4 linked regions of the Homo sapiens genome follow. The protein of the gene in region 4 interacts with the protein of the main gene of each other region in a pairwise test. Each region holds a gene or a part of one and is shown on either strand. Other genes may lie near its edges. The genes, in order: SPATC1L, HMG20B, CCDC102B and SYCE1.

What was found.
Region 1: the proteins of SYCE1 (region 4) and SPATC1L interact in binary tests that used the Homo sapiens proteins (3 or more experiments, as listed by UniProt).
Region 2: the proteins of SYCE1 (region 4) and HMG20B interact in binary tests that used the Homo sapiens proteins (3 or more experiments, as listed by UniProt).
Region 3: the proteins of SYCE1 (region 4) and CCDC102B interact in binary tests that used the Homo sapiens proteins (3 or more experiments, as listed by UniProt).

Annotation. Positions count from the first base shown.
Region 1 is NC_000021.9:46,174,453-46,181,488, forward strand, and holds part of SPATC1L (speriolin-like protein), read right to left. Parts: intron 1-7,036.
Region 2 is NC_000019.10:3,568,114-3,575,965, forward strand, and holds the start of HMG20B (SWI/SNF-related matrix-associated actin-dependent regulator of chromatin subfamily E member 1-related), read left to right. Parts: upstream 1-4,830; 5' UTR 4,831-4,881; exon of another isoform or gene 4,882-5,178; 5' UTR 5,179-5,196; coding exon 5,197-5,234; exon of another isoform or gene 5,235-5,578; coding exon 5,579-5,687; exon of another isoform or gene 5,688-5,704; intron 5,705-6,269; coding exon 6,270-6,473; intron 6,474-7,426; coding exon 7,427-7,547; intron 7,548-7,852. UniProt on the Homo sapiens protein: Required for correct progression through G2 phase of the cell cycle and entry into mitosis. Required for RCOR1/CoREST mediated repression of neuronal specific gene promoters.
Region 3 is NC_000018.10:69,053,049-69,055,694, forward strand, and holds the end of CCDC102B (coiled-coil domain-containing protein 102B), read left to right. Parts: intron 1-981; coding exon 982-1,089; 3' UTR 1,090-2,141; downstream 2,142-2,646. UniProt on the Homo sapiens protein: During interphase, forms fibers at the proximal ends of centrioles to maintain centrosome cohesion. During mitosis, dissociates from the centrosome following phosphorylation to allow centrosome separation. Contributes to CROCC/rootletin filament formation.
Region 4 is NC_000010.11:133,562,552-133,569,760, forward strand, and holds the start of SYCE1 (synaptonemal complex central element protein 1), read right to left. Parts: upstream 3,033-7,209; 5' UTR 2,979-3,032; coding exon 2,906-2,978; intron 1-2,905. UniProt on the Homo sapiens protein: Major component of the transverse central element of synaptonemal complexes (SCS), formed between homologous chromosomes during meiotic prophase. Requires SYCP1 in order to be incorporated into the central element.

The sequences.
Region 1 (7,036 bases), on a different chromosome or scaffold from region 4:
TAAAGGCATGGAGAAAAATCTACCAAGCAAATGGAAAACTATGATTGCAGGGTTGCAATCATAGTTTCTGACAAAACAGATTTTAAACCAATGAAGATCAAAAAAGACAAAGAAGAGCATTACACAATGGTGAAGGGCTCAATTTAACAAGCAGACCTAACTACACTAAATATATATGCACCCAACACAAGAGCACCAAGATTTATAAAGCAAGTTCTCAGAGACCTTCAAAGAGGCTTAGACTCCCACATAATAATAGTGAGAGACTTCAACACCATACTGACAGTATTACAGATAATTGAGACAGAAAATTAAAAAAGATATTCAGGACATGAACTCAGCACCGGATCAAATGTACCTGACAGATATCTACAGAACTCTCCACCCCAAAACAATAGAATATACATTCTTCTCATTGCCACATGGCACACACTCTAAATTCAATCACATAATTGGAAGTAAAATACTCCTCAGCAAATGCAAAACAACTGGAATTATAACAAACAATCTCTCAGACGACAACGGACCCAGTTAGAAATCAAGCCTAAAAAATTCACTCAGAACCACACAATTACATGGAAATTGAATAACCCGCCCCTGAATGACTTTTGGGTAAACAGTGAAATTAAGGCAGAAATCAAGAAATTCCTTGAAGCTGATGAGAACAAAAATACAACATACCAGAATCTCTGGGACACAGCTAGGGCAGTGTTAAGAGGGAAATTTATAGCATTAAATGTTCACATCAAAAAGTTGGAAAGATCTCAGTCAAACAACCTAACATCACAGCTAAAAGAACTAGAGAATTAAGAGCAAACAAATCCCAAAGCTAGCAGAAAACAAGAAATAACCAAAATCAAAGCTGAACTGAAGGAGATTGAGACACAAAATACTATTCAAAACATCAATGAATCCAGGAGCTGGTTTTTTGAAAAAATTAATAAAATAGATATACCACTAGCTAGACTAATAAAGAAGAAAAGAGAAAAGATTCAAATAAACACAATCAGAAATAAGGGATATATTACTACTGACCCCGCAAAAATACAACCAACCATCAGAAAATATTATGAAAACCTCTATACACATAAACTAGAAAATCTAGAAAAAATGGATAAGTTCCTGGACACATACACCCTCCCAAGACTGAACTAGGAATAAATGGAATCCCTGAACACACCAATAACAAGCTCTAAAATTGAGTCAGTAATAAATAGCCTACCAACCAAAAAAAGCCAGGACCAGATGGATTCACAGCTGAATTGTACCAGATGTACAAAGAAGAGCTGGTACCATTCCTGGTGAAACTATTCCAAAAAGTTGAGGAGGAGAGTCTCCTCCCTAACTCATTCTATGAGGCCAGCATCATCCTGATAACAAAACCCGGCAGAGATGCAACAAAAAAAGATAACTTCAGGCCAATATATTTGATGAACATTGACGCAAAAATCCTCAACAAAATTCTGGCAAACCAAATCCAGCAGCACATCAAAAAGCTTATCCACCACAATCAAATAGGTTTTATCCCTGGGATGCAAGGTAGGTTCAACATAAATCAATAAATGCGATTCATTACATAAACAGGACTAAAGCAAAAACCATATGATTATCTTAATAGATGCAAAAAAAGCTTTCAACAAAATTCAACACCCCTTCATGTTAAAAACGCTCAATAAACTAGGTATTGAAGGAACATACCTCAAAATAGTAAGAGCTATGTATGACAAACTCACAACCAACATCAAAACTCAACCCCTCAAAACTTGGCACAAGACAAGAATGCCCTCTCTCACCACTCCTATTCAACATAGTATTGGAAGTCTTGATCAGAGCAATCAGGCCAAAGAAAGAAATAAAGCCCATCCAAATAGAAAGAGAGGAAATCAAACTATCCCTGTTTGCAGATGACATGATCTTATATCTAGAAAATCCCATAGTCTCAACCTAGATTCTTAAGCTGATAAACAACTTCAGCAAAGTCTCAGGATACAAAATGAATGTGCAAAAAACACTAACATTCCTATATACCAACAACAATCAAGACAAGAGCCAAATCAAATGGAATGAACTCCCATTTACAACTGCCACAAAAAGAATAAAATGCCTAGGAATACAGCTAACTAGGGAGGTGGAGGATGTCTACAAGGAGAACTACAAAACACTGCTCAAAGAAATCAGAGATTACACAAATGGGAAAACATTCCATGTTCATGCATAGGAAGAATCAATATCATAAAAATGGTCATACTGACCAAAGTAATTTTATAGAGTCAATGCTGTTCTTATTAAAATACCATTGAGATTAATCACAGAACTAGAAAAAAACTGTTTAAAAATTCATATGGAACCAAAAAAGAGCCCGAATAGCCAAGGCAATCCTAAGCAAAAATAACAAAGCTGGAGGCATCACACTACCCAACTTCAAACTATACTACAGAGCTACAATAACCAAAACAGCACGGTACATAGATCAATAGAACGGAACAGAGAACCCAGAAATAAGTTTGCACACCTATAACCACCTGATCTTCAACAAATCTGACAAAAACAAGCAATGAGGAAAGGACTCCCTATTAAATAAATGGTGCTGGGATAACTGGCTAGCCATATGCAGAAGACTGAAATTGGACCCTTTCCTTACACCATATACAAAAATCAACTCAATATGGATTATAGACTTAGATGTAAAACTCAAAACTATAAAAACCCTGGAAGACAACCTAGGCAATACCATTCAGAACATAGGGATGGGCAAAGATTTCACAACAAAGATGCTAAAAGCAATTGCAACAAAAGCAAAAATTGACTAATGGCATCTAATCAAAGAGCTTCTGCACAGCAAAATAAACTATCAACAGAGTAAACAGCAAACCTACAGAATGGGAGAAAATTTTTACAAACTAATGCATCTGACAAAGGTCTAATATTCAGCATCTATAAGGAACTTAAAGAAATCTACAAGAAAAAAACAAACAACCCCATTAAAAAGTGGGCAAAGGACATGAACACTTTTCTAAAGACATACATACAGCCAACGAGCATATGAAAAAAGGCTCAACATCACTGCTTATTAAAGAAATGTAAATAAAAACCACAATGAGACACCATCTCACACCAGTCAGAATGGCTATAATTAACAAGTCAAAAAACAACAGATGCTGGCAACGTTGCAGAGAAAAAGAACGCCTATACACTGTTAGTGGGAGCATAAATTAGTTCAGCCATTGTGGAAGACAGTGTGGCGATTCCTCGAAGACCTAAAAACAGAAATACCATTCAACCCAGCAATTCCATTACTGGTTGGGTTCCATTAATGGTACCCAAAGGAATATAAATCATTTTATTATAGAGACACATGCACGCATATGTTCACTGCAGACTATTCACAATAGCAAAGACACGGAATCAACTTAAATGCCCATCAGTGGTAGATTGGATAAAGAAAATGTTGTACATAGACACCATGGAATATTATGCAGCCATAAAAAAGAAAGAGATCAGCCGGGAGCAGTGGCTCATGCCTGTAATCCCAGTACTTTGGGAGGCCAAGGCAGGTGGATTACCTGAGGTCAGGAGTTCGAGACCAGCCTGACCAACATGGTGAAAACCATCTCTACTAAAAATACAAAATTAGCTGGGCATGGTGGTGCATGCCTGTAATCCCAGCTACTTGGGAGGCTGAGGCAGGAGAATTGCTTGAAATCGGGAAGCGGAGGTTGCAGCGAGCCGAGATCGTGCCATTGCACTCCAGCCTGGGCAACAAGAGTGAAACTCCATCTCAAAAAAAAAAAAAAAAAAAAAAAACCAGAATGAGATCATATCCTTTGCATGAACATGGATGGAGCTGGAGGCTATTGTCCTCAGCAAACTAATGCAGGAACAGAAAACCAAATGCCACATGCTCTTACTTATAAGTGGGAGCTAAACAACGAGAACACGTGGACACATAGAGGGGAACAACAGACACTGAGACCTACCAGATGGTGAAGGGTGAGAGAAGGGAGAGGATCAGGAATAATAACGAATGTACTAGGCTTAATACTTGAGTGACAAAATAATCTGTACAACAAACTCCCATGACACAAGTTCACCTATGTAATAAGCCTGCACTTGTACCCCTGAACTTAAAAGTTTTTTAAAAAAGAAATACATGGCCAGGTGCAGTGGTTCATGCCTGTAATCCCAGCACTTTGGGAGGCCGAGGTGGGTGGATCACCTGAGATCAGGAGTCCAAGATCAGCCTAGCCAACATGGCAAAACCCCATCTCTACTAAAAATACAAAAAGTAGCCAGGCATGGTGGTGTGTGCCTTTAATTCCAGCTACTGGGGAGGGCAAGGCAGGAGAATCGCTTGAACCCAGGAGGCAGAGGTTGCAGTGAACCAAGATGACACCACTGCACTCCAGCCTGGGCAACAGAGCCAGACTGTGTCTCAAAAACAAACAAACAAAAAACCATTTACTCCTGCCTTCTGAATCAATGATTCTATTTTTTAAAAATAAATCCAGCTGGACAGTGGCTCAAGCCTGTAATCCCAATGGTTTGGGAGGCCAAGGTGGGAGAATTGCTTGAGCCCAGGAGTTTGGGACTGGCCTGGGCAACATAGGGAGACCCTGTCTCTACAAAAAAAAAAAAAAAATTTTTAACTAGCCGCTCATGGTGGCAAGCACTGTAGTCCAAGCTACTCAGGAGGCTGAGGTAGGAGGATTGCTTGAGCCCCAGAGGTCGAGGCTGCAGTGAGTCATGATCATTGCCACTGCACTCCAGCCTGGGGAACATAGACCCTGTCTGAAAAAGAAAAAAACATAATGGGCCAGGCACGGTGGCTCACACCTGTAATCCCAGCATTTTAGGAGGTCGAGACAGAAGGATCCCTTAAGCCCAGGAGTTCAAGACCAGCAACATAGAAGATCCCATCTCCATAAAAGTAAAAAAAATCACACACACACCAAAAAAAGAAATCCAATGGAAATAACCTTAAATATAAAAATTCTTAAAACCTTTTTTGTGGTGCTATTTACCTCAAGGGGAAGAAAAACTTTAATTTCAAACTGAGGGAGAATTCATTACATTGTGGTTCATCCGAATCGGCAATATTGCAGGGCCATTTTAAAGTACACCTAACAACACAGGGACAATCTTCTGTCATGTCAGACGGAAGGAGTGACCAGGAGTTGCACATAGAGAATTCTCACCACTGTTGGAAATCATCTGACAATCCACCACCAACAACTAGGGAGCGAGTGGGCAATCTGGGGGGGCCTGGCTGTCCTCCAGGGGACACCTCTCCAGTGGAGACACGGCGAGTGGCATCGTGGCCGTGCTGGAGGGACCAGGACAATCCCGAGGGAGACGAGATGGGGCAGCTGGGAGGGGAGGCAGAGGACTGCTGCTCCCACTGGCCCTTCGCGTCACTCACTTGTAAACCTGGGTGAGAAGACCTGGAGACCTCGCTCCCCAGCTGACGGGGACAGATGAGCCCTCCTGTGACGTGGGAACGATGCCGGCGCAGTGCCCTCCTCCTCCATCAGTGGGGTGTAGGGACCGTTCAGAGAGCGTTTGACAGTGTCTGTTTCAACATTTCAAATGCACACAGCCTTTGACCCGAGGACCCAGGTGTGGGATCCCCTACACAAAGCCACAGGGCGCCTGCGCAGGCCACCCACGGCGGCGGCGTCCACGGTCGCAGAGAACTGGGAACAGTGCTGCCTGCCTGGGGCCCCCACAGAAGGAGCCCAGTGTTCAAGTGTGCCGGGGAGATCTGCAGATAAGGACTGGTGGGGAATGCCGCGAAATGGATCGTTAAGGGGGAAAAGTCAAGTTGCGGAACAGCACAATCCCGTGTAGGTGGACCAAAAAGATACACAGACAGACACACAGATCTCCACTAAAGTTCCAGAGAAAACCCAAGAGAACGTTGATTGTGGCTGCCTTTGCGGAGGGGGCCGGAGGCGTGGCCTGAGGCTTAAACGTTGCACCCTCCATGGCGTTTATAAGTTTACCATGAGCACGTGTTGTTGAATCCGTAAGAAAAGCAGGTTTTTACTCATCCTGTTTTGAACACAGATGCTAATGAAGTCTTGGCAACATGCAGACATTGCTGGTGGTGGTTCCTTTGTTTATAAACTTCTCCTTTTTTGCAGAAGCTCAGTGCTGGTCTTCCCAACCCCAGTTCTGCTGAGGGCTGGTCCTGAATGCAGCGTCCCACAGCCCCAGGTACATTCCCAAGCACATGCTGAGGCCCAGAGCATTAAGGGTGCACCACACGCTGCCACTCAAGTGGCAGAGTTTAGAGGGTGGTCTTGTCCAGGCCCCTCCCCGCTGCCAGCCCGGGCCACACTGAGCCTGCCCCACACCCTGTGGCGGGGGCTCCAAGGCCCTCTGTGGAAGGCCTGCTGGCCTCAGGTTGAGGCTCCTCCCAAGACCCGTGTCCAGCAAGACCTGGGTTTGCCAAGATGACCCAAGGGCAGGGGCAGCAGCCGTGGTCATGGAGACCCCGCCCGGACTCAGCCCCTGACAAGGGTCCCTCTGGGGACTGCACAGCCTGGGCAAGGGTTGAGGGTCTGCCCCTCTCCTGCCAGGGGAGGCACCAGCACTCTGTCCAGCCCTGAGGTCCGGCCCAGGGTGATTCCTTCTTGAGGAGGAGGACAGCAACGCAGCCCGGGGCACGCAGCCTGCGGCGGTCCACACACGCCAAACAGATTAAGGGCCCTTTTGCAGCCACAGTGCCCGGGCCTCACAAGTGCTGTGAACGGGACCCTGCACGTGGCCCAGCACCGTAAGCGCAGGTCTGCCCAGCAAACGCCCTGTGGTGAGCGTGGGGCTCAGTGGCCGCTGATGGAGACGCAGAACCTGGGGCCTCGCACAGCATGGCCCCCAGGCGCCAGGTTCCCCAGCCACACTGTCCCCGCACATCCTGGCGAGGTGCTCTCCTCCCAGCTCCCTGCGAGGAGCCCCTGCCTGTCACCAGAGACCAAAGGTGTGGGGACGATGCCATGGATTCCCCTCTTTGCTTCCAGACACGCTCGCTCTCAGG
Region 2 (7,852 bases), on a different chromosome or scaffold from region 4:
TGCTTACAATTGAAACTCTGGGAATTCAAAATTAACATCCTTGCCCATGAGCTTCTTATAGACACCAGAAAAAGTTTCAACCTTGTGTTCCATATTGTTCTGCTGTGCCTTGTCCAAATGAACCTTTATGAGCCGGCTGCCATCTAGTTTCACGCAGATTCTCTAGAGTTTCAACTGTAAGCAAAAATGACTAAATAAAAAATATATATTCACGTTAAAAAAATTTTTTTTTTTTTTTTGAGACGGAGTCTCGCTCTGTCCCAGGCTGGAGTGCCGTGGCGGGATCTCCGCTCACTGCAACCTTTGCCTCCCGTGTTCAAGCTATTCTCCTACCTCAGCCTCCCAAGTAGCTGGGATTACAGGTGCCCGCCACCACGCCCGGCTAATTTTTGTATTTTTAGTAGAGATGGGGTTTCACCATGTTGACCAGGCTGGTCTCGAACTGTGGACCTCGTGATCCTCCCACCTCAGCCTCCCAAAGTGCTGGGATTACAGGTGTGAGCCACCGTGCCTGGCAATTTTTGTGTTTTTAGTAGGGACAGGGTTTCTCCATGTTGGCCAGGCTGGTGTCAAATTCCTGACCTCCAGCGATCCACCCACCTCGGCCTCCCACAGTGCTGGCATTACAGGCGTGAGCCACCGCGCCCAGCCCACGTCTTTATTAGGAATACGCACATGTGTACGTGTGTAGGCATGTGCTGTGGGTGGAGTCATGTCCCCACAGAATGCACAGGTTCCTGTCCTAATCCCCAAGGCCTCAGAATGTGACCGTATTTGGAAAAAGGTCATTGCAGATATAATGAGTTAAGATGACATCATTAGGGTGGGCCGTGACGCAGTATGACTGCTGTCCTTATCAAAAGAGGAAATTTGGGTGCAGACACGCACATAGGGAGAACCCCACATGAAGATGCAGGCAGACATCGGGGTGTCACTCCTACAAGACAAGAAAAGCCCAGGATTGCTGGCCAATGCCAGAAACTGGGAGACGCCAGGGACAGATTCTCTCCCCGCCCTCAGAAGGCCCCAGCCCTACCCACACCTTCCTCTTGGACTTCTGGCCTCCAGAACTGTGAAACAATAAATTTCTCTTGTTTAAGCCCCTCAGTTTGTCGTAATTATTACCTAGCAAACCAATGCAGTGTGGTGTGCGTGTGTGTGTGTGTGTGTGTGTGTGTGTGTGTGAGTGTGGCTAGGAAAAATTTTAAAAAGAGATGCGGCCGGGTACAGTGGCTCACGCCTGTAATCTCAGCACTTTGGGAGGCCAAGGTGGGCGGATCATCTGAGGTCAGGAGTTCAAGACCTGCCTGGCCAACATGGCAAAACCCCGTCTCTACTAAAAATACAAACATTAGCTGGGTTTGGTGGCACGTGCCTGTAATCCCGGCTACTCAGGAGGCTGAGGCAGGAGAATCACTTGAACCTGGGAGGCGGAGGTTGCAGTGAGCAAAGATCACGCCACTGCACTCCAGCCTGGGCGAATGAAACTCTATCTCAAAAAAAAAAAAAAGAAAAAAAAAAGGCCTGGCACAGTGGCTCACGACTGTAATCCCAGCACTTTGGGAGGCCAAGGCGGGTGGATCACAATGTCAGGAGATCGAGACCATCCTGGCTAACACGGTGAAACCCCATCTCTACTAAAAAATACAAAAAAATTAGCCGGGCGTGGCAGCGTGTACCTGTAGTCCCAGCTACTTGGGAGGCTGAGGCAGGAGAATGGTGTAAACCCGGGAGGTGAAGCTTGCAGTGAGCCGAGATCGCGCCACTGCACACTAGCCTGGACGACAGAGCGAGACTCTGTCTCAAAAAAAAAAAAAAAAAAAAAAAAAAAGCAATAAGCTGACGATAGGAAATGTAATGAAATTAAAGAGGTCTGAGCTGCACTTCCTTAATTCTGTACAAGTGAAATGGATGTGAACATGATTTGCATAATAAAAATTAATTAGAAAACCAAAGAATTATAAGGCAAGTCATCCTTAATGGAGAGCTTCCACCTCTAGGATTATAAATTGGTATACTGTTCCTGGCTTCATGCTATAAAAACTGGCAAATAAATCATAGTAATAAATGACAAAAAACAAACAAAAAGGCCGGGCGCAGTGGCCCACCCCTGCAATCTAGCACCTTGGGAGGCCGAGACGGGCGGCCACCTGAGGTCAGGAGTTCAAGACCAGCCTAGCCAACATGGTGAAACCCTGTCTCTACTAAAAAAAAAAAAAAAAAAAAAATTAGCCGAGCGTGGTGGCGGATGTCTGTAATCCTAGCTACTTGGGAGGCTGAGGCAGGAGAATCGTTTGAACCCGGGAAGCAGAGGTTGCAGTGAGCCGAGATGGTGCCACTGCACTCCAGCCTGGGCGGCAGAGCAAGACTCCATCTCAAAAAAATAAAATAAAATAAAATAAAATAAATAAACAAAATAAAATAAATGTTCAATTAAATTGTTATTGACTATGGCCGGGAGGGGTGGCTCCACACCCAGCCTCACCTAGACTATTTTTAAGTGAGCAGAGAGACACAGGGGAGGCCTGGGAGGTCAGAGAGCTGATTAAGCAACAGAGCCAGGTCTGGCGTGTGGAACCGTCCAGATTCCAGGGCCAGCTCCTCTTCCTCAGCCCCGGGCTGCATCTTAGGACAATGGGCTTATTGAGACTTAACTCACATATAATGCACCCATTTAGAGCATACAATTCCATGGTTTGTAATATATTTCCAGAGTCACGCAGCCATCACTGAAATCAAATTGTAAAATACTTTCATCACCCAAATGAAAACCGCATCCCTCTCAGTGGTCATTCCCCACCCACTGGCACCCACACGTCCCCCTCCTGTCTCTGTGGATGGGCCTTTCCTGAACATTCTGATCACACACTGTGTGACCTTTGTGTCTGGCGTCTCTCACTGAGTGTGATGTCTTCTAGGTACATCCATGCTGTGACTTGTGTCAGAGACTCGCTCCTTTTTTTTATGGCTGATAATATTCTTTTTTTTTTTTTTTGAGACGTAGTCTTGCTCTGTTGCCCAGGCTGGAGTGCAGTGGCACAATCTTGGCTCACTGCAACCTCTGCCTCCCAGTTCATGGGATCCTCCTGCCTCAGCCTCCCATGTAGCTGGGATTACAGGCGTGCACCACCACGCCTGGCTAGTTTTTGTATTTTTAATAGAACTGGAGTTTCACCATGTTGGCCAGGCTGGTCTCGAACTCCTGACCTCAAGTGATCCGCCTGCCTCCCAAAGTGCTGGGATTACAGGCGTGAGCCACTGCGCCCGGCCCATGGCGGATAATATTCTGTTGTAAGGATATATCCCGTCATCGATCCATGCATCATTAGCAGACGTTTGAGTTGTTTTCACTTTTTGGCTATTATGAATCACGCTGCTACCGACGCTTGTGTACACGCTTTTGTTTGAACACCTGTTTTCAGTTGTCTGGAGTATATTCCTAGGAGTGAACTGCTGAATTGCATGGTGATTCCACATTTATTTAACCCTTTGAGGAAATGCCAGTCTGTTTTCCAAAGCAGCTGCATCTGCCTCCTAGACATCTGAAGGATTCAATGAATGTGTATTGAGCATCCACCATGGGCAATGCTGTGAACCAAACAGGCAGGCCACAGGGAGAAGCCGACTTATGGAGGCAAAAAAAAAATCAGAGAAGGCCTGGCTGAGCAAGTGACATTTAAGCGGACTTGAGGAAGAGGAAGTGGGCCGGGCGTGGGGGCTCACGTCTGTAATCCCACCACTTTGGGAGGCCGAGGCGGGTGGATCACGAGGTCAGGAGTTCAAGACCAGCCTGGCCAAGATGGTGAAACCCTGTCTCTACTAAAAATACAAAAATTAGCCGGGCGTGGTGGCAGGCGCGTGTAATCCCAGCTACTCGGGAGGGTGAGGCAGAGAATTGCTTGAACCCGGGAGGCAGAGGTTGCAGTGAGCCGAGATCCAGCCACTGCACTCCACCCTGGACGACAGGGTGAGACTCCGTCTCAAAAACAAAAGAGGAGGTGAGCAGCCCCAACTTGGGCCAGAAGCCTAGACTGCTGCTGGGAGGTCCCTGATCCACCAGAGCGGAGCCTCCTGACCCATCCTCACGAAGTCCTTGCCATCTCCCTTCACCACCATCTTTCCCCAAACACTTCCAGCCCAGCTCCCAACCCCACCCCCTGCCTGACCCACACCCAGTTCTCAGCTTCCCAGCATCCCAGTCTCTCTGTCCTGGATATCGTGTGATGTCCCCGTTGCACAGGGGGGAAAGCCGAGACCCCAGAGGGAGAGCAGCCCCTATGGCCAGAAGCCCTCGGATCCGGACGTCGGGGGCTCTAAACTGAGTAAATACATAGGAAACTTCTCCGCTAGGTTTTGCAGGATGTTAAGAACAGGTCCCACCTTGCCTAGGGCTGGGGACTGCCTCGCAGGACCTTAACCCTAGCAACCCACCTCCGTCCCCATGGCAACCGGGGCGGGGCCCGACCCGGATCCGCCGGTCGCCCCATCCGGCAGCGGCTGGGAGTCTTGCCTTCAGAGAGGGAGGAGGAGTCCGCGCCTCTCCTACTGGCCCTTTAAGAGGCTCCGCCCGGCAAGTCCGCCACTCGCTCCCGATTGGTCCCGAGCGCGGCCGAGCGCAGCCGAACTTGACGCACCGCCCGCAGCCTTCCTTACCAACCTCCCACGCGACTCAGCAACCTCCCCAACCAATCGCCGGCCGGCGCGCCGATCGGTATCTGCATGGGCTCGCCCGGGGGGAAGGTCTCACCCAATGGGACCGTTCGCCGAGGCCTTCATTAGCATGCCGGGGGCGGGGAGGGGCGGGGCGGCCGACGGGGGCGGGCTGCGGGCGGTTGGTTGGAGCGTCGCGCAGTCGGGAGGTCCGGGAAAGTTTCTTTGGAGGTGAAAACAGCCGCGGAACTCCGGGCCCTGAGAGGGGGCGGGGGTGCAGGGGTCCCAGGGCCGGGCCGGGGTCTTTCCTGGCCCGGGGGAAACCGGCCCAGGCCTCCCGGGGGGGGCAATCGCCCAACAAAGGATTCTTGGGGCGCCCGCCCTCGAGGACTTCCCTGCCCCTGGATCCGGCCCCCCCAGCGCTCCGGGCCCGGCATCCCGGGGCTCTCCATCGCGGGGTACCCCAGTTCGCGGTCTGCCATCGGGCAGCCCGGGCGCTACTCACCTCCGCCCGCGTCCGTGTTCCAGGTCCGGCCCGGAGCGGCCATGTCCCACGGCCCCAAGCAGCCCGGCGCGGCCGCCGCGTGAGTGCACTGATCCCCTCCCCACGCCCTCGCTACTTTCCCGGCTGCAGCCCTAGCTCCTGAACCCCTGACCCAGTCCCTCCCGCCGGAGTCTTGACTCCCCCACCTGGGTCAGGGGGCTTCTCCCTCCACCCAATTCTGCACCCCCCACCTCGGCCTCCAGTCCCTCCCAGGAGCCCCGCTTGTCCCACCTTCCCCGGATACTGACCCCATCAGACCCTGCCTCCTCGGGCTCATGCACTCTCGCTGCAGCCCCGCCGTCGGGGGTCAAAACGCCCTGGGGTGGGCTTTTGGGGGAGGGGAGATTCTTGGGACGGGGCTGACCGCGGTATCCTTGGCTCCAGGCCGGCGGGCGGCAAGGCTCCGGGCCAGCATGGGGGCTTCGTGGTGACTGTCAAGCAAGAGCGCGGCGAGGGTCCACGCGCGGGCGAGAAGGGGTCCCACGAGGAGGAGGTGAGAGTCCCTGCGCTGAGCTGGGGGAGGCCCCGGGCTCCCGCCCCAGCCTCGAAGCCCCGCCCCAGGCTGGATTTGAATTGCTTGTGGCTCCGCCCACAGCCCATTTTCCTCTGGAAGCTGAGACCCCGCCCCGTGCCAGCTGCCACGCCCCTGACAGGTCCTCTGCCACTCTAAGTCCAGGCCCCGCCCACCGCACAATGCCAGCTCTGCCCACTCTAAGGTCCCGCCCACTTCCACTCCTTGGGGGCGGCACCCTCCCCTTGGTCCTGTGGGCCCGTTCTCCAGCAGAAAACCACGCCCACCAAGCAGAGGCCACGCCCACAACCGAAGTCAACGCCAACCCTGTACTCAAACCTCGGCCCATAGTTCCTCAGATCCCCTCACCCCTGGCCAGGGATCCCTCTAACCCACCGTGTCCCGACTGCTGACCGGGCCCTACCTCCATCTTTTCCGGGTTCTTCCTCCCAGCTAGGCCCCGCCCCCATCCCCGCCCATACGCGTTAGGCCCCGCCCATGCCCCTCTGAGCCCTGCCCCAGTACGCCAGGCCCCCCTCCCAACGACGCAGCCCGGTTCTGCAGCCGGTGAAGAAACGCGGCTGGCCCAAGGGCAAGAAGCGGAAGAAGATTCTGCCGAATGGGCCCAAGGCACCGGTCACGGGCTACGTGCGCTTCCTGAACGAGCGGCGCGAGCAGATCCGCACGCGCCACCCGGATCTGCCCTTTCCCGAGATCACCAAGATGCTGGGCGCCGAGTGGAGCAAGCTGCAGCCAACGGAAAAGCAGGTGGGCGGGGCGGGGCGCCGAGCAGGGCTGGCGGGGTCCACGGACTACCCCCCAGTAGCCCCGACCCCCAAAGGATTCCACGTGCAGGGTTTTTCCTTCTTCCTGGAGAAATGCCCACCCATAACCAACTTTTTTTTTTTTTTTTTTTGTGAGATGGAGTCTTGCTCTGTTGCCCAGGCTGGAGTGCAGTGGCGTGATCTCAGCTCACTGCAACCTCCGCCTCCCGGCTTCAAGCAATTCTCCTGTCTCAGCCTCTCAGGTAGCTGGGATTACAGGCGCGTGCTACCATGCCCTGCTAATTTTTGTATTTTTAGTAGAAATGGGGTTTCGCCATGTTGGCCAGGCTGGTCTCGAACTCTTGACCTCAAATGATCCGCCCACCTCAGCCTCCCAAAGTATTGATATTAAAGGCGTTAGCCACCGTGGCCAGCCCATGACCAGCTTTTGGGGGCGCGGCTAGCAAGAGGCAAGACAGATTGAAAACTGGATGACCAACAAAGATATGTCTAAGAAGTCAGGATGGGGCCTGGATTTTTTGCGAAACCCGATTTTCATATCCTGTTAGTTTAAAAATTGCAAAAACATCACGGAAATGTAACAAAAGCCATCACTGCTTTGCATCCCTGTAAGTGAGATTTCAAAGAGAGAAACGGGTGCGGGAGGGAGTCCAGGCATCCGCATACGCTGGAGGTTGGGTTCCTGCCCATGACTCTGGCGTCCGGGAGTGGTTTGTCAGGGCTGGAGGTGGGGAAGAGTCCGGGGCATGGGAAGTGAGGTGGGAGCTCGGAGGTCCCTGAGCAACAGGCTGAGGAGCCGGTTCTGTCTGCCTGGAGGGAATAGGGAGCTATAGAAGGTTCAGGAGAGGGGAGGGTGCTGTGAAAGCAGAGTGATAAAGACTGGATCCTGGCGTTGGAGGCTTCCCCTGCTTCAAGCCTTCTGGTGCTGCCCCCCAGCGGTACCTGGATGAGGCCGAGAGAGAGAAGCAGCAGTACATGAAGGAGCTGCGGGCGTACCAGCAGTCTGAAGCCTATAAGATGTGCACGGAGAAGATCCAGGAGAAGAAGATCAAGAAAGGTGGGAGGGGTCGGGCGCGGTGGCTCACGCCTGTCATCCCAGCACTTTGGGAGGCCGAGGCGGGTGTATCACCTGAGGTCAGACCAGCCTGGCCAACATAGTGAAACCCTCCCCCTCTACTAAAAATACAAAAATTACCTGGGCGTGGTGGCGGGTGCCTGTAATCCCAGCTACTCGGGAGGCTGAGGCAGGAGAATTGCTTGAACCCGGGAGGTGGAGGTTGCAGTGAGCCAAGATTGCGCCATTGCACTCTAGCCAGGGCGACAGGGCGAGACTCCGTCTCAAAAAAAAAAAAAAAAGAAAAA
Region 3 (2,646 bases), on a different chromosome or scaffold from region 4:
ATATCAAGGGACCCAGTATATATGAATGTTCAGAGCATCACAGGGCTGGAGACAATATAAATACTCATGGAAAGGAGGGTAGGTATATATGTCATGGCATAGTAATGCAGTGCTATAATAGAGAGGACAAAGAGACCACAGATGAAACATTACTGTAGATGAGTCTTAGCTGTTGGATTTAAAAAGCAAGAATATTACATATAGCATGAAATACCTTTTTTAATTAAAACAATTAAAATGATACATTTTCAATAATATATATAAATATATTTCACATATATATATATATACACTTAGCATATGTATATGTGAATATGTATACATACACGTGTATTTTGTTCAAAGCCATGGGAATAAAAAACACAAGTTATAGTTCAGTGACTTATAGCTAGGGGAGGCAAGAGGGGAAATGGGAGAAGAGTGGCTACATAGAAAGGATTTTGTCAAATATTTCAGAGATCATTTTGAGGTTTATTACTGAATATGTACATTAACTCTATTAAAATAAATGAATATTTTCATTTATTCATGCACATATACAAAAGAAACTCACACATACACTACTGGTAAGTTACTGTCATACAAACATATACCTTGTTTTTAAAGAGTTACTTTATTTCAACTACTTTTTTTTTTCATTAAGAGCTTTTCTTATTAAGATGGAGATAGAAAGCTGTGTCTTATATAGAATGGATCCTCATGTTTTTCAATTTAAATTTTATTTTTAAATTGACAAGTAAAATTTGTACATATTTATGATATACAACATGATGTTTTTCTAAATGTGTACATTGTAGACTAGCTAATCAAGCTACTTAATATATGTACTATTTCAAATACTTATAGTTTTGTGGTGAGAATACTTACAATCTATTCTCTTAGCAATTTTTAAGAATATGATAAGATGTTATTTACTATAGCCACCATGATGTACTATAGAACACTTGAACCTAACTAAAGCATTTTCTACTTCGCTTTCAGCTTGATGATTCCCTGAATCAGATCCGTAAGCTCCAGAGGTCTCTGGATGAAGAGAAAGAAAGAAATGAAAACTTAGAGACTGAACTCAGGCACTTGCAAAACTGGTAATTTTTTCACAAAATATGCTGAATTAAAGATTAGGGCCTTAAAGACATTTCCATATCCTTTTCTTAAATATCAGTAAAATTGTTTTTATTAACTAGAAATATTAATGAAAAAAACGTAGACAATACACAAATTAATGGGCTTCTTCACTTCTTCTAATTTTTGCCTAACAGATACTGCATATTCTCAAAAAGACAATTTAAATGTCATTTAAAAACAACTTTAATTCTAAGATGTGTAAATATTTTGAAAGTCAAAAAGGGCTTTCAGAATACTTTTTACATAAAATCTGAAAGAGTTATAATATCGGTAAGAAAAAGTAAGTTGAAAACCATACAAGACGCTGGGTCATTAATAAGAAAACCATTGACTTTAAGTATAAAGTACTGGTTTGTTTAAATAATTGGTAAACTTTTATGTACGTGTTGTCTATGTGGTGGGGATGGCAGGTTGTATTAACAAAAATGAATCATTCTAGAGGTGTAACAATACATTTCTTATATAATTTTATAAGTCATTTCTAATCTTTGTATAAAACAGAAGTGAGCAGATGAATCAGAAAAAAGTGTTTTGTATTTTAAAGTAACAGATAACCAGTGATTGAATCTAAGACAGGCTGTAAGCATCGCTGAGAAACTAAAAGGACTTTTGACTTTTATCTGGATAGACATTTCTACAGTAAAATCATGGAAAGGCATCAGCATTGCAAAGTAGCATCTAGGTAGAAATCAGGCCAAAATTAAGCTGTGGTTTCCCTCTGAGTAGTGGGAATAGAGAAAATTAGGAAATTGTGGTTATGTGAATATTTCTTTAAAACTTTTATGTACATTATAGTTTATTGCTTCATATTTAAGTTTAGTTTTTAAGGTAAAATGTTATTTTGAACAAAAAGACACTTATAATTTTCCATACCTATTTTCAACTGAAGGCAACTTGTAAGATTTAACTCAGTCAATAACATACTGGTTTTACTCATCTCCCCCTCCATTGATTAGCCAAAAAAAAATGAAATCTTACTAATTCATTATTGAATAAAGACCACTTTTATCAGAGTCTCTCATTGTAAAAGCCTTTGTCATTCACTGAGTCTTCACTTTTTCCCTGTTTCTCTCCCAAACATGGGGGATTGTATGACTAATAGGAACGCAGCACTGAGGGGCAAAGAGGCCCGATCTTCAAGTGCGCACTGGTGTGTGTTTGCTAGGCTGTGTAGTAATGAAATCTATCTTGTCGCTGGGTACTCTTGCTGGGTTCTGATGCTTAAATGTGAACTTCCTTCTCTTTGCTTAACACTCCTCCTGTGAACTGGATCCATCTCAGTGCTTTCTGGTATGACCTCCTCTATCCCATCATATCCCCTGTCAACCAACTGACTGAGCAATTCATCCAGATGGAGCCTTGAGGATGGGCCGCAGGTCAAGGTCTCATCTCAGTCACAATCCCATATGAGAACCAAATACAGTTTGGAGAAGCTAAATATTAGGGTTCCCCTTGCCTGACCATGTTTCTCTGCTTTTCTGTGGCTGTGCCCCAAGTGGGTGTGGGGCAACTGGCAAGGCG
Region 4 (7,209 bases):
TTTTCCTTGTGTATCCCCAAGAGTGTAAACACACAAGTTCATGTCAGCTCCTAAACTGTTTGCTTTTGTATTGTGTTACCTGATTTTTTTGTTTATTAATTATTGCAACAGAAGCTACTCCTGCATTTTTAAGGAAGAGTATATTTTAGACACTTAGAAATATTTTTTTAATGTTTTTTAAGTACACTGTAAAAGCATCCATGTGGTCGAGCCTCATAATAATTCTCCCTTTTTGCAGACCCAGGATTCAGTGTGGCCTCTTCCCAGAGCTCAGAGATCCAGTTAAAAGATAGGTAGTCACTATCTAAATAAAATTGGTCTCCTGTGATCCAACCACCTCCCACCAGGCCCCAACTCCAACATTGGGGATTACAATTCAACATATTTGGGTGAGGACACAGATCCAAACCATATCACAGGCCAAGGCCAAGGCCGAGGCACGGTTGAGAAGGCTCAGAGGCACCTGACCAAAGTTTGTAACAGTTTTGATTGACAATACCAAATTACCTTACACTGATGTATACAAGATGCCCAGTTTTTCATTTTTACCAATCACCTATGTTTCCAAACGTGTTTATCTTTGTCAACCAGATATGCAAAATTAAGGTGTCTCCTTACAAACTTTCTGATAGTAAATATCAAAAGTTTGGGTGCATCTTATTTTCTAAGACTATGTCCTAAGTAATTCTGGATATGGCTAATGGGCAAGGTGTTCATCACTGTATTGTTTATAATAGTGAAAAACTCGAAGAAGCCTAAATATGCCTTAGGGGATTTGTTAAATAAATTATAGCACATACACAGGATGAAATCATTTACAGCCATTAAAAATCATGCATACATGCATAAGGCCAGGCTCAGTGGTTCACATCCATAATCCCAGCACTTTTGGGAGACTGAGGCAGGAGGACTGCTCAAGCATAGGAGTTCAAGAGCAGCCTGAGCAATGCAGCAAGACCCTCTCTCTACAAATAAAAAATTTAAAAAAATTATCTGGGCATGGTGACATGTACCTGTGATTCCAGCTACTCAAGAGGCTGAGGTGGGAGAATCTCTTGAGGCCAGGAGGTCAAGGCTGCAGTGAGCAGTGATTGTACCACTGCACTCCAGCCTGGGCAACAAAGCACAATCTCGTCTCAAAAAAAAAAAAAAATCAAGCATAAAATTTTGTGAAATGCTTATTTTTGAGTTTATGGAGTCCCCTCATTTTGGTCCCACCTGAAATCTTACACAAATTACTGCTCATAAATTTTTGCATTAAGTTTTAAATTATTCAAGTAATTGGCATGTGTGAAAAAGTATGAAGAAAAAATTGAAACACCAACATTCCCTTTCCCCAGTCATTCCCCTTTCTAGTAATAACTGCAGCCAGTTAGGTGAAGACTAATAGACTTTTTACTAAAATGTATCTAGTGTCACTGACCCTAGATAACATCCCTGCTTCCTTTTTAAAACAGATAGACTAAAACTGGAATCTTGTCCTTTAAATTTCTTCTGTAGCTGGTCACTATAGAATGTTTGTGCCCCCATCCATAGTTCGTATGTTGAAATCCTAACCCCCTAGTGTGACTGCATTAGGAGGTGGGGCCTTTGGGAGGTGATTAGGTCATGAGAGTAGGGCCCTCAGCAATGGGATTAGTGCCCTTATAAGACCAGAGAGGTCTGCAGCAACTTCCCCAACATGAGGACACAATGAGAAGACAGAAGTCTATAGCCAGGAAGCAGGCCCCCACCAGACGCTGAATTGCACCTTGATCTTGAACTTCTAGCCTCGAAAACTGTGAGAAATAAGGCATTTCTGTTGTAGCAGTTTGAACTAAGGCACAAGCGACATTGGTTAAAACTTACCTAAATATACTAGGTTATGTGAGGAACATGGAGCCATGATACTGAAAGGCTAGCACACCGGCGGGCCAGCAGGTGCTTAATGAAAGGGATACGTTTGCGTCTGTCCTGTTTACTTGCTTTGTCCTTCGCTGGGGCTTTCACTGTGCCACATCTCACTGTAGGGATGCTTTCTGTGCTAAGCTTGTTTCAGTATTCAAACCTTCATTTTGTAAGAACATGACAGAGCACCTGCCATGGCATTCACGCAGGTAGGGCTGGAGGCAGCCACCGACGTTTGTTAATTGCAGAGTTTTAACTCAAGGGGGACAGATGATCTCAGGACAGAATGACAAGCTGAGTGACAGCAGGAGGGACGTCACCGTACAATTCTCTCCACTTTTCTGTAAGTTTGAAAATCCTCACAGAACACCCAGAGGCACACAGTGTCCTGAAGTGGAAACGGCCAGGACAGTGTCCTTTCTCTTTGTTGGGCTGCAATTTCTGGACTTCTGTACAACTCTGACCAGCTGCCTGTCCCCTCCCTTCCCAGGGTGAGGTAGGAGCCACTATGGCAGGTCGGGGTCAGGGAGAAACAAACGGGGGATCTGCGTGGAGTCGGCCTCCCCCGGCTCCCCGGGGCGTCGGGATGCTGGGTGGGGGGCCCCACTGTCAAGAACCAGTTTAGTGCGACTGGGAAATCTGGACACTTGCTGGTTCTAGGGAGAGGAAGGTGGAATTAGGAATTCCCTTGGGATTGGGAGCGTCAGGAAAATATCCTTTTTGTTTTAAGAGGTGTGTATGTAAAGTCTGTGGGACAACGGGAAGGGATGTCTTTTGACTAATTACCTAAACCAAAATTGGAGCAACTATGATAACAGTTCAATGCTTTAAGACAAAGTGGGGGGTGTGCGGGCAAGCACTCCCTCATCTTGGCCGAAATTTTTCTGAAGAAACCCGCTAAGTCTCAATCAGCAGCATCAGGACTGACAGGAAGAAGCAGCCGCCACCCGCGCCCCAACCCTGCCCCGCCTCGGCGAGGTCAGACCCTCACGCACAGTTCCCTGCCTCCCACCACTACCTCCGGCCTTCTCAGCCCTGTCCACGGCTCCTGCGGTGGGCTCGGCCTTCGATGTCAGGGACCTCCCCGCCATTTCCTCTCAGCTCGCCAGCGAGGGTGCCTCGGGAGGGAGCCTCCAGTGGTGATTGGAGCAACCGCCGCTGGGGGCAGGACTCCAGGCAGCGCGCCTGCGCAATGCACTCCTGCGCGCGCCTGGAGATGTGAGGTAATTCTCCGGCAGGCCTGCGTGGCACTAGTGCGCATGCGTAAAGGCGCGAGGGCTACAAACGCGGCGGGAAGCCCGCCAGGGCCACGTGCGGCCGTCCAGGCTTGCGATTGGCCCGCTGCCGGGTGCCCCCGCGCATGTGCGCTGGCTTCCGAGGGGACCGGCCCTGGTTCTGGAGGCCCTCCCCACCAACGAGCAGTACGCATGTGTAGCGCCGAAGCTTCCTGTGAAGTGTGCGTGTCTGACGGATGACGACTCCACAAGGCGCTGTGGCCCTGGCAGCCTCATGAGGTTGCGGCTCTGCGGGACCACACCGCCGCGGGAGTGCACGGGCCCCAGCGAGTGAAATCTGCGGCAGCCCCCGCTGGGCCCGCTGTTCCTGCGCGCGCAGAGGAGCGTAGCCTGCCCCTAGGCCGCGTTCCCGTGAGCTCCATGCCCACAGTGGCCGAGGCCGGCCACAAGCCCACGGTCCCTTCTGCACGGTCCCTGCCGCGCTGGGGCCACCGTGGAGGCCCGGAGGGCCCTGGGAGGAGGGAGGAGGAGCAGAGGCTTTCGGGAGAACCCAGCCCTTCACCGGCCAGGGGAGGCCGCGATGCATCGCGACTGGTTGTGAAGAGCCAGGGGAAGAACTTTACCGTGCAGGTGAGTGGGAGACATCAGAACACCTGCCTGTCCTAAATACGAAGCCTCGAATCCTAACCTATAAAAGGTTACCTTAGGGTTTAGGGTTAGGGCTACAGATTAGAGCTAGGGATTAAGGTTAGAGTTGGGGTTGGGGTTAGGGTTTAGGGGTTAGAAGTTAGTTTTGGGGTTAGGAGTGGGGTTAGAATTAGGGTTTGGGGTTAGTGTTAGGGGTAGGGGAAGGATTGGGGTAGGGTTAGGGTTGGGCTAGGGTCGGGGTAGGGGTAGGGTTTTACGGTTAGGGTCAGGGTTTTAGTGTTGGGGTTAGGGTATTGGGGTTAGGGTTTGGGGGCTAGGGGATTAGGGTCAGGGGTGGGGGTTAGGGTTTGGGATTTGGCTAAGGTTTGTAAGGGTTAGGGTTTTAGGGTAGGGGATAGGGGTTAGGGTTACGTGTTGGGGTTGGGATTAGGGTTAGGGGTTACAGTTTAGGGTAAGGGGTTAGAGTTAAGGGTTAGGGTTAGCATTAGGAGTTACAGTTGGGTTAAGGGTTAGGGGTTAGGCTTAGTGTTGTTAGGGTTAGGGTTAGGGTTAGCATTAGGAGTTACAGTTGGGTTAAGGGTTGCAGGTTAGGCTTAGTGTTGTTAGGGTTAGCTTCAGGGTTCGGTGTCAGGGTTTGGGGTGGGGTAGTGGTAGGTTTAGGGGTAGCGTTGTGTGTTAGGATTTGTGGTTACGGTTCGGGCTAGGGTTTTAGGGGTAGGCATAGGTTCGAGTTTGGGTTTGGGTGTTAGGTTTATGGCTAGCATTAGGGTAGGGGTTAGGTGTAGGAGTAGGGGTTGAGGTTATGAGTTGAGGTTAGGGTTAGGGGTCAGGGGTCCGGTCAAGGGTTGGTGTTGGATTTAGGGATTAGGGCTAGAATTAGGGGTTAGGGTTAGGGGTTTGTGTCGGGGTTGGGTTGGAGGCTTGGGTTCAGGGTCAAGTTTAGGGTTGGGGCTAGGGCTTAGGGTTATGGGTTAGTGTTAGCAGTTAGGGTTAAGGTTTAGGCTTAGGGTTTAGTGCTTGAGGTGGGGGTTAGGTGTTAGGGGTTAGGGTTAAGGGTTAGTGTTTTGCGTTAGTGGTTAGGGTTAAGGGTTATGGTTAAGGGTCAGCGTTAGGGTCAGGGGTTAGGGGTAGGGGTTGTGCTTAGTTTTAGGGTTAGGGTTCCTGGACGGATGGTTTTCCTGCTTGGGAATGTTCCTGGGCTGTGAGATCCACTCTTCTGGGCAGGTGGTTAGCACCTAACGTTTTCCCCTTACTTCCCCCCAAATTCTTAAGTCCTTTGGTCCATTTCATTACTTCTTTTGGGGAGGGCCTGATTCCTCAGGGCCTCAGTGGCAGAACCAGCCTGAGGTCACCTCCCTGTCCATGGGTTACCACGGCCCCTGGGCAGGCATGGGGAGCTGGGGTGGCTTGGGTTCCTGGCCTTGGCACCTCCCTTTGGGCGGCTCTGGAGTGTGGCTGGGCTGTTGGTACAGGAGCCACAGGCCACTGCCTTTTTGGCTGAGGGGACCCTAACATCCTGGAGCAGGTGGGGCAGGGCCCATGGTCTCCTCTAGGTGGGAGGTGGGAGGCTGAGGCGGCGTGGGCAGGCAGGTGGATGGCGAGGCAGCATGGGCAGGACGGTGGATGGCGGGTCCACAGGGGCAGCCAGCAGCTCCTGCACCCACTGGGGCTCCAAGACTGTGGGCAAGGGAGGAAGGGGGAGCCCAGGCCGGAGGATCCTGGGGGACGGTGCGGCCCGGGGGCCAGATGTGGTCACCGAGCCCAGCCAGGCCTAGGGCCGCAGCAGCCCCAGGGCACTGAGGGCGCCACCCAGCCCGACACAGAGGCACAGGCCGCCCGTGGGTCCAGCGCCCGAAGTCCACGTACAGTAGCTGTAGATGCCGAGCCGGTCCTGTTGCCTCCGGGAACCCAGTCCTCCTCGTCCTCCAGGCCGCGTTCCCCGGGTCCCGCGGCCCTTCTCCAGCCTGAGCCCGCCGCCCCGGCCGCAGCCACGCGCAGGGAGGAGCCCGGGGCACCATAGCACAGCGCCGGCCTCACACACACCCTCGAGGCCCCTCTCGAGCCCCCGCGGAGCCCTCCGCGGCCGCACGCAGAGGAAGGCTGCCTCCTGTAGCAGAGCCCAGCCATTCGCGGGTGCCCAGTTCATCTTCATGGGGCTAAACCTGCGGGAAGAGAGGGAAAGGGCCCTTAGTTTCCATGGAGATCGGGTGCCCAGAGGCGGAGGGCTCAAGGCTGGAGAGCAGAGGGACCCCCATCTTTTGTGGGATCAGGGTGCCCCCAGCATCTTGGAGGCCCACTGAGGCCTGGGGGGGCGCGGTTTAACCTCTAGCATCAGGGACTTAGGCCTGGGGGAGGCGCTGGGAAGTGGCAGGTGGGGCAGGAGGGGCAGGAGGGTTCTGCACCTGAAGGTTGTGCACCTGGATTGGGGGTGTAGAAGCGGGGCAGGAGCGTTCAGGCCTCTGGGGGCGTCCAGGCCCGGGCGGGGGAGCAAGCCTGGGGGAGGGAGCTCTGCACGCGTTGCTGGGATGTGGGGGGCGGGGGGAGGCGGCATGGGGGGAGGGGCGTTGTGTTTGGAGGACGCGGTAGCCGGGACCAAGAGCTGGCTCAGATCAGGGTCTGGAACGGGGACGGGCCGTGCCTGGGCCTGGTCCCCACCTTTGGGGCCAAAGCCTGGGTGCGGGCCTTGCGGATGCTGCGGAGGACAAGCGGCTGCTGACACCGTGCGGACTCCGCCCCAGCAGACCCGTGCCCCAGGGACAGTCCCTCCCGCGCGCGCCCAGCGCTCAATGCCGTCCCCGGCCGCCTAGTTCAGCAGCTGGCTGGGGGCGGGACGGGGTCGAGTTGCGGGGCCGCGTCCAGACACGGCTGTGCGGGCGACAGCTGCATCCCCTCCCCGCGCCGCCCCTCGCTCCCGGCCCCGTACCCGCCCCAGCCTCCCGGCCTTACCCGCCACGGGCCTCGGTTGGAACCGCGCGCTGGAGTATCCGTCCCTGAGGCCGCGGCCGAGCGGGAAGGAGCGGGCGGGCGGCGGCGCGGACCCTCAGCCGGAGCGCGGAGCCGCGGCGCCTGGGTTTTGCGCGAGGCCTCCGCCCTGGGATTGGGGCGGGCAGTCGCGGAGGCGCATCCCTGGTGAGCCGGTGGGAGGGGAAAAGGATGTCGCGTCCCCCATCCTTGCGGCCTCCCGTCCTCCGTCACCAGCCCCCTCCGTCTCCTGCATCACAAGGCCCCGTCCCCGCGGTCCCCCGCGACCCCCGCACCCGGCTCCGCTCCACCCGCCGTGCTTCCTGCCCCTCCACACCCTCGTCCCCACCCGGGCCCATCCCCCTGTGAGCCCTGGTGCCCTGGGATGAGGGCCGAGGTCCTGAGCGGAGAGGGTGCTTGTACCAGCCCCATGGTGGCTCGAGCCCACCCCGCGGCCCCTCCCGTGGCAGGTGCGGTT